2 linked regions of the Homo sapiens genome follow. The protein of the gene in region 1 purifies or fractionates together with the protein of each later gene. This does not show direct contact. Each region holds a gene or a part of one and is shown on either strand. Other genes may lie near its edges.

Region 1 (3,500 bases):
CTGAGTCTTTTCTGTGAAATGGGATGATCCAACCCACCTTGCACACTAGGTGAGCAGCATGGAAGTGCATCAGAAGCGGGAGATTGGAATAATGTGTTAGCAATACGATAGCAAGAACAACAAAGCTGAAACAAAACCAACAACAGTGAGGATGCTGGGTGTGGGCCAGGCAGTGTGCCAAGCACTCACACCATCTCCTTGACTAATGCTTGCACAGGGCTTTAGGGCTTCCAGACCCTTCACATCAACATTCTCTCATCTAATCATTCCAACACTCAGAGTGACTTACTAGTGTTATGCCCATTTCTAGGCTGAGGAAACTGAAGCTCAAAAAGGTGTAGGGGTAGCTGACTTTGAGGTCATGTTGCGAGCAGTGGGACCTCTTGTAACTACATTGATTCTGAGTCCTACTGTTACACCTCTGTGGGGCCTAGGCTTAGTGGGGGTGACTCAGAACTGATTGGGTTACAGGAAGGAAGGGAAGGAACAGGGCACTGTGCTGGGCGCCTGACATACATTGTCCCAGGTAATCCGGTGGGTTGTTATTCACCCCTGTTTTATCAACGGAGACATTGCAACCCAAACAGGCTCAGTGATTTGCCCAGGAACACACGGCAGATAACAGCCAAAGGTGACTGAGCCTAGGACTTGGGTCAACCTGATACCAAGGGCCATGCTCCTTGGGCTTCTCTTTGAGCCTCAGAGTCATTTATTTTCCTTGGAGTCCAAGACTCCAACCCCAATTCCTCCCCTCCCCCCAGCAGTTTTTTGCCAGTTTGGCGGCTCTTAATGGGCAGTAATAAGTTTGTTTACTTTTGCTCTCTTGATATTTATTCAACTCATTGTATCTCAAGAGAAGTAACACCCCCCACCCCCACCCCGGCATTCCAGCCATCTTAGGACTGAAGAAGAACTCAACTCCAATCAAAGTGATGCTCCTCACTTTTTTCCTGTGTCCAACAAAGAAAAGCAAATCCAACTGTTTTCCTTGGCTTCAGAATTAAAATAAAAACGATTCTTAAAATTGCTTTTCCACATTGTATTGTGAGGAGTTTCCATCACGCATGGGTTTTCCCTCCCCACAAGTGAGGCTGGTGTGACTGTGCCACGTGACAGCCTTTGTACACTGGGAGGCAGCCTCTCCAGGGCTTGGGTCCCACCCAGTCTCCGGTGGGCTGCCTCTGAATGTCCCCGCTTGGCCTGATGTGGTGGGGCCACACATCATGTGTCCGCATCCCTCTCACCACTGTGGTGCCACAGCCCAAGCAAGGGGCCACTTTGTGGGAAGAGCTGTCATTTTCATCAGATGGAGCTGTGTGTTCTGCCCTGCAGCAGAAGCTGCCGGCCTGGGATCCTCTTTTGAGTTCACCCCAAAGGTTAGAAATGAGAAAAGTTCCAGCAATTAAAAGAATAACAACAATAAATTGTCACTATGGCTCAAGCACTTTATATACATTATCTCACTTAATCTTCCCAACAGCCCTCGGAAGGCGGCCTGTTATTTGAGGGCCGCCATGCATGGTGGCCCCACTTGAGCACTGTGCTACTCTAGGGGACACAACTCACATTCATAGTCTTTATGTTTTTTATATTTATATTGTAGCAATTTTCTGATGCCCACAAAGATACTTTTAAGGCTAACAGCAAAGCTGACATTTATCCCTATTTGCAGTTGAGGAAACTATTGAGATTTGAGGATCGTGAGTCATTTGCCCAAATCACAAATTAATAAGTAGTAGAGCCACTAACAGATCCCAAAATAACCCCCAAAGATACCATACTGTGAATAAAGAGAAACCAAAGTGCCAAAGTGACTGGAAACCCAAAAGAGGTTGTTCTCTGACCCTCTAGGCAGGACGACGACAGGAGTGCTCTTGCCGTCATTAGGCCTGCAGATCCCAGGGAAGCCTCCAAATTAAATCCGGATCTCAGGAGTTGATTCATCATCAGTCCAGGTTGTAGTCCTGCCTGGAGGACTTACAGAACCACCCCCTCACCACCCGTCCTCTGGTCAGCACTGCCCATTGGTCTGTGATCACAGATGAAGGCCAATAATGGGTCCACGCCATAAGAGGCATCCCAGCACTGCAGGAGGCCTGAGAAGCGGGCCTCTGCCAAGGCAGTCAGGGAATCTGGAACTGCCAGCTGGCCCCTGACGTCGGGGTTCTGGGAAGCTAGAAGCCTGAGCTGTGCTTGAGTGAGTCTGGTGGACCTGAGCATGAATCAAGTTTGTGAAACTATCATCAGGACAGAAGACAGATGAAAACATCAACATTAGCTAGCAGGTGTTCCTACTAAGCTGTTGAAATGTATGGTGTGCTGGTAGGGAAGTATCCAAACCAGTTGGTAATCCAAGATGTGGGAGGGATCCAGATGAAGGAAAAGGCCCAGCTGATCAGGTGACCAGTAGTATTGCTAATAATGGCTGTCGTTTGTTGTGAATTTGGGTGCCCAGCTGTACTCTATCTCATTGGCTCTTAATAGCTCTATGAGTAGGGGACCATACATCCTGGTTGGCCCCAGTTGAGGTCTGTTGTCTTACGTAATTATTATTATTATTATTATTATTTTGAGATGGAGTTTCGCTCTTGTCACCCAGGCTGGAGTGCAATGGCACCATCTCAGCTCACTGCAACCTCTGCCTCCCGCTTTCAAGCAGTTCTCCTGCCTCAACCTCCTGAGCAGCTAGGATTACAGGTGCCTGTCACCACACCTGGCTAATTTTTGTATTTTTAGTAGAGACAGGGTTTCGCCATGCTGGTTGCGGTCTTATGTAGTTATTAATAGCACCCCCTTTTCACTCTCAATATTGTCCTGACTGAGCAACAAACTATATGATCCCATTACCTAAGAGAAAGGTATTATATCTGCATTTGGCAGTAGAGGAAACCCAAGTCTAGAAAGGTTAGGTCGCTTGTTCAAGATCACTTGGAAGTAAATATCACAACTGGGATTTAGCTGTCAACTGCTAGGTCCAAACCCTGCCTTGCATCAAGATTGTCTCTTCAACCAGTATGAATAAAAGGTGCTTGTTTGTTTAATGGCTGAGATGCAGCTTGCATGTTACTCACTGTTGACTGAATAAGTAGAAATAGCTTTCAGGTCAGCACAAGGGTGTGTTTTGTTGGATGTTGGAAAGAGCTGCTTGATCACGCAAGTGGTAAGACCCCAAAATGGGCATCTGGGATGAGCAGTGACACCCTCACCTTGGAGAACCTGGTGAAAGGACTGTGCATTGTTTGTCCTGGATGATTCACCATCAGCCCGGAGGCCAGGGAGGGCATATCCAGATCTCCAGCTGCCCTCCCCTCCTGGCTGAGGATGCTATGAATGATTCCCCACCAGAAGGCACCTGGGGAGTCTGGAGTCAATTCCCAAACCCTTCTAGTTCAGCTCTCATAAGACCATTGAATGAACCATTTATCCATCCATCCAGCCCTCCATCACCCACCCATTTAGCCTTCCCATGCAGCTAGCCATTGTGCATTGCTACTACCTGT
Region 2 (5,088 bases), on another chromosome or scaffold:
AAAACATTCTTCAGTCGCAGATGAGCAATGCCAAAGGATTATGTTCTGCTGGTAAACTCATTCATTTACCTGGAGCTCATACACTCTGTAGCTGATCCATCTAACTGAGCCCATTACGATGCAGTGGGAGAAGTGCCACACAAAAGCTACTTTATAGTCAAGGCAACGGCACATAAAAATTGATCCCCTGTGCTCTGTGGCACAGAAACACTATTGTTTCAACCAAGTAATTACCTGCGCACTTGAATAAAAGTGAGGCTCTTTTGTGAAGCCGCTGTGCCCTTGCATACAGGAGTTGAGATGAGCTGAGGGGGCAGGCTCCTTGATATTCACAACGGGATGCTCACAACGACCCTGAATATCTGCACAGCACACAGTCTTAGGCAGTTTGCTCTCAGAGTCCTGCCAAATCATGTCAGAGACATTGCACACCAGGGGCAAGCTAGTGCTATGTTCCTTGAGATTCGCAGAGCTTTCTTCATCAGGTCAGAATGGGAATGAACCTGGTTGTTCTTCATGCATGATGTTAGACCAAGAGGCACTCAGACAGGTGGTAGTTTGGGGAAAAATCTGCCAGAGAATTTTGAACGCACAACCAGCAAATGAATGTTTAATTTTGTAGCAATAGAGGGTTTCTCTTTTGGAAATGGGGTATATCATATTTACATTCCTCCTAAAAAAAAGTGAGGGTCAATTCACCATAACGTGGTCTCTAGTTCAATCCCTACTGAGACATACATAAAAACCTATGAGATAGATCAATTCCACAAATTCAATGCTAGGAAAGGGTCTTTTTAGACATCCATTTGCTTTCTTTTTTTCAAATGATAATCCCTGGACATTCCTTTGCAACTGGACTGGCAGGAAGCCTAGGGTTAAATATATTGCTTAAATGCAAAAGCAGTTTAGGATCCTGATACATTGTCTCTCCACTTTCAACAGTAACATTACTCCTTCTGGTTTTCAATCCGTATTTTATGATTCTCAATTGTAGTTTGGGCTTGTATATCACATATGAAAAAACAAAAACAAAAAAACCTTAGTTCTCTGATGGGACTGGACGCTATAGAAAGGAGGAAGTGCTGGCCATGACTTACCTTGTGAATTTCTCGGTGCACATGGATGGTATTATTTCCAACCTTCGTGTCTGTGTTGGTCTCATTGTGATAGCTGGGAGGTAAGTTTGCCAGGTTCACTTCTGATGATGCTTTAGCAGCAGCTTCTTCTGCCTCCATCTATTAAATCGATGAATTTAATGAGCAAAATTATTTTCTCTTGTTACAAATGGGAGTCTATTAGAAAAAAAAAATCTCTTTTCCTCTTCTGCAATTACAAAGAATGATGATGATGATAGGTGCTATTAATTGAGTACTCACTATGATAAGATATTATACTAAACGTTTTACATATATTACAGCACTGAAATTTCACAATCTCTCTGGGAGGTGGGTGTTAATGTCCTCATATTACAAATAGGGAAACTGAGGCTCAGGAAGACTAGATAAATTCCCCAGAGTCCCAGGAAAGGGTGGAGCTGGGATTTGAACATGTTTCCACTAGATAGTCTTGCTCCCTGTGTAAACGCTGTTGATGCCCTGCCCATCTCCTGGTGGCCTAATCTGGAGGTCACCTGTATCCAGTTCCCATACATGCCAACAACCAACTCTGTCTCTCTCTAAGGGCATTCTCTGGTCACCAAAGTATGCTCAGTCTGCAGAGGCCCCAAGTGCTAGGGAGTTAACATCCTAGCAATGAAAGTCAGGCTATGGAGGTAAACAGTCTAGCTTCTCCCTTCGCTAGACAATTCTAAAGCATGTAGAATCTACGTAGTCTCCCTCTAAGGCCTCCAGTGGGATGGAGCCCTAGATGCCCGCAGCAGTAACCTGCTTGCAGGCATACCGTTGATTGTCTTTCTTTTCTTTCATCACACTTTCCCACTTCCTGCTAGTGTTTTCTGGGAGCACATCCCAAATGCACTATTTGCTCTTAAGTCCTTGTGGCAGGACCTGTTGTTGGTGGTGGTAGGGGCAGGGGATGGAGGGAACCTAAACTTACTCCCTGTAGGTAGGGCCACAGCTGTGTCTCCTTCCCCACCCTGCCTCTTGGGTACCCTTGTAGGAAATCCTTGCAGAGGGACCCTTGTAGAGGGTCAGTTAACCAGTTCCCGGGGTCCACACCCCTTCTGGTTTTCTTAGACATATGTTCTTCTCTGGTGTCAGGTTTCTGTGGCCGCTGTCCTCAAATCCTCCAGGCTCATGATCCTCCATAACATCTATACCAGATATGTCAGTGACCTCATATCTGCACCCAACTTCCCCTTCCAGATTTATCACCCTGTCCTGGCCCTGATGAGTGGGCAGTTGACAATGTGACCTGTTCACAGCTGATGGGACCCAAAGGGAGGCCACATCATAGACTAATTGAGCCAATCAGATACTCTCTCTAGGAATTTCAAATGAGAGACATAAAGAGAAGTTCTACCTGATAGTTGGCAATTTTCCAACACTGCTATTTTTGACTATGGGCTATTTTTATTTTTTTTTTTAAAAAAAGAATGCTCAAAAAGTATTTTCCTATTTAAAAAAATCACTGTCCTCTATCCCCTTAAGTACTAGATGAGCCCCTGCTTTAACCACCAGGTTTGCTGAGCTGAGGAGGATAAGAGGAAAGAATCCTCATGTCTCAATGCAACACAAAAACACTAAACTCAAAGTGTGAATAAAACCTGGTAGGCAGAAAGGCTCAACAAGGACTTAGTCAGTGGCCGGATTCTGTGCTGGATTCTGAGATGGCTGCTGAGATGTTTGAAACTTGATCACTGGCTTCATAACAATAATAATTCTAAGAATAGCCCCCACGTTTGGGGCATTGACTATGTCTGAATCGTTGCACCAGATGCCTTGAATATTGACAGCAACCTTATGGGGAAGCTGTGATTATAGAGTCAGGTCCAAAAGTTTAAAAAATTGAAATATCTGGATCCCTTCATGGACCCGCTGAATTGGGATTTCTAGAGATGAGACCCTGATAATACTGAGCTTCTCAGCTTATTCTGAGGATTTCCCTCCCCTCCCTCTGATCCCCAGTTAAGAATCTCCGTTCCAGGCAATAGGGAACTACAGCAAGTTCCAGAAGGCTAGCGGGAAATAATATAAAGAGTAGATCAGAAAGAGAGGGGAGTCAGGAAACTGGCTAGAATTAGGTCTAGGAGATGGGAGCTACTTCTGGGTAGGGACCTTCTAGGTGGGAAAGACTCTAAGTAAGTCTAGAAGGATCAAGCCACTGAGAGATGGCCACTGGATGAGTCAAGTCATTGCCTGCAGCATCCTCGGAGAGGAACACAGTGGAAAGTACCAGGATTCTGGAGTCAGACAAGGTGGGTTCAAGTCCTGGCTCTGCCACAAAGTAGCTGTATGACTTTAGGCAAGATACCAAATCCCACTAAACCTCAGCTTGCTCATTTGTAAAATAGGGATGTCCTACTTTGTTGAGTAGATATAAGAATTAAGGACCATGCAGTAGATATAAGAATTAAGGCATGAAATACACTATCTGCCACACAGCAAAGATGAAATACACAGCTGTTTTTATCCCGTTGCCCTTTAAGAAGGCAGTTTCAAAAGAAGCCAGTTTGTTTTGCCAGAGTTCTGAAGGGAATGGGTAGCTAGAAGCAGGAAGAGCAAACGTTGATATCATGTGTTTGAAGAGCTTGCCAACAAAGGGGAGAAGAAATGGGGCTGAGATAGAAGACAGAATGGGCAAGAAAATGACTTTCCTTAAAAGCAAGAGACCTTGCCCTCAGTTACCACTCTGGTTAGTGATAGAAAAAAACGCAGCTGGGAAGAGAAGACTGAAGGTGCTGGAGAGGACCCACCCAGAAGAAGAGAATGTTTTAGTGTTTTTAAAATTCCCATCGGGATCAGTTTGGCTTTCAAATAATTGACAAGTTGCCAAACCTAGAATTTGCTCTGGGCTGAGCAGATAGTCTTTTTATAAAACTTTTCCCCCCAGCTCAGCCACTGGTTATTTCAACAGAATGAGCTAACGGTTCTTAAATGGCACCATGAACTAAAAGTATAGTTTACAATGGAAATTTCAACCGCAACTATTATTGCCACTAGCAAGAGAAACTTAAGTCTGAAGCAAAAGGAGCTGTTTCGTAGAGGAGGAATGTGAATGCTATTAAAAATGGCACTTATACTAGAAATAGGTGAGGCAGTAAGAACATTCTAAAATGAGTGAGTTACAGAGCTGGCCATGAGGGGAAGAGAAACAGAGTGGTTATATCTTCAGAATACATTGATTGGTAGCATATAGAATAGTAACACAGGAAAGTAGGAATATCCCAGATTGAAGCCATTTGAAGATATGCTTCTTCCAATAATGACCGTACAAGTAGAGCTGCTTTGTCCTTCCCCTTAAGAAACTTCAACAGCTTGATTCAGCTGGAACATTGAAAATGCCAGGAAGTTACTTGAAAGGAGATTCATGATGCAACTATGTAAACAAATAATGCATCTGGCCCAGGTCCTTTTTGATTTTTCCCCTGAACAATGACTAAATACCAATTATCCTGTGTCTATGAGATTTAAGGGGCATTCTGGCAGTCTCCATAAAAAGTTAATACTAATAACCACAGTCTATAAACAATCTATTGTATTCTATTTTTGAAGATATCTAAAAGATACTTTTAGTATTTTAAGATTAATTTTTAATGGTTTAAGATATTTTAAAAGATAGATTCTATTGAGAATCTATCAGACACTGGTGGTGTTTTGTTATCATTCATACTGCTACTAGTAATATGATGATAATGATACCTGTTACTTATTTACAACCAACCATCATGTCATCCTTACAGCCACCTCACAATGAAGCTACCTGTATTACACGTGTTTTACTTAACCCCATTTTAGGCAGTCAGCGGATGGCCTGCCCTAGAACCACAGGCATCACAAGCTCAATTTAATGTGAAGCTGCAGAATTAAGAGACATTGGGGCCTATATGACTCCCTTCACCCTTTAATTGTTCCATGTCATGATAGTTTCACAATCACAGGAAACAAAGATCATGGATCTTGGGCTCTT

What was found. Proteins that work in one complex are often made in the same cells at the same time.
Region 2: the proteins of ANGPTL2 (region 1) and DKK3 purify together in Homo sapiens (co-immunoprecipitation; one large-scale study listed by IntAct). This does not show direct contact.

Annotation. Positions count from the first base shown.
Region 1 is NC_000009.12:127,112,636-127,116,135, forward strand, and holds part of ANGPTL2 (angiopoietin-related protein 2 precursor), read right to left. Parts: intron 1-3,500. UniProt on the Homo sapiens protein: Induces sprouting in endothelial cells through an autocrine and paracrine action.
Region 2 is NC_000011.10:12,001,203-12,006,290, forward strand, and holds part of DKK3 (dickkopf-related protein 3 isoform 1 precursor), read right to left. Parts: intron 1,236-5,088; coding exon 1,098-1,235; intron 1-1,097. UniProt on the Homo sapiens protein: Antagonizes canonical Wnt signaling by inhibiting LRP5/6 interaction with Wnt and by forming a ternary complex with the transmembrane protein KREMEN that promotes internalization of LRP5/6.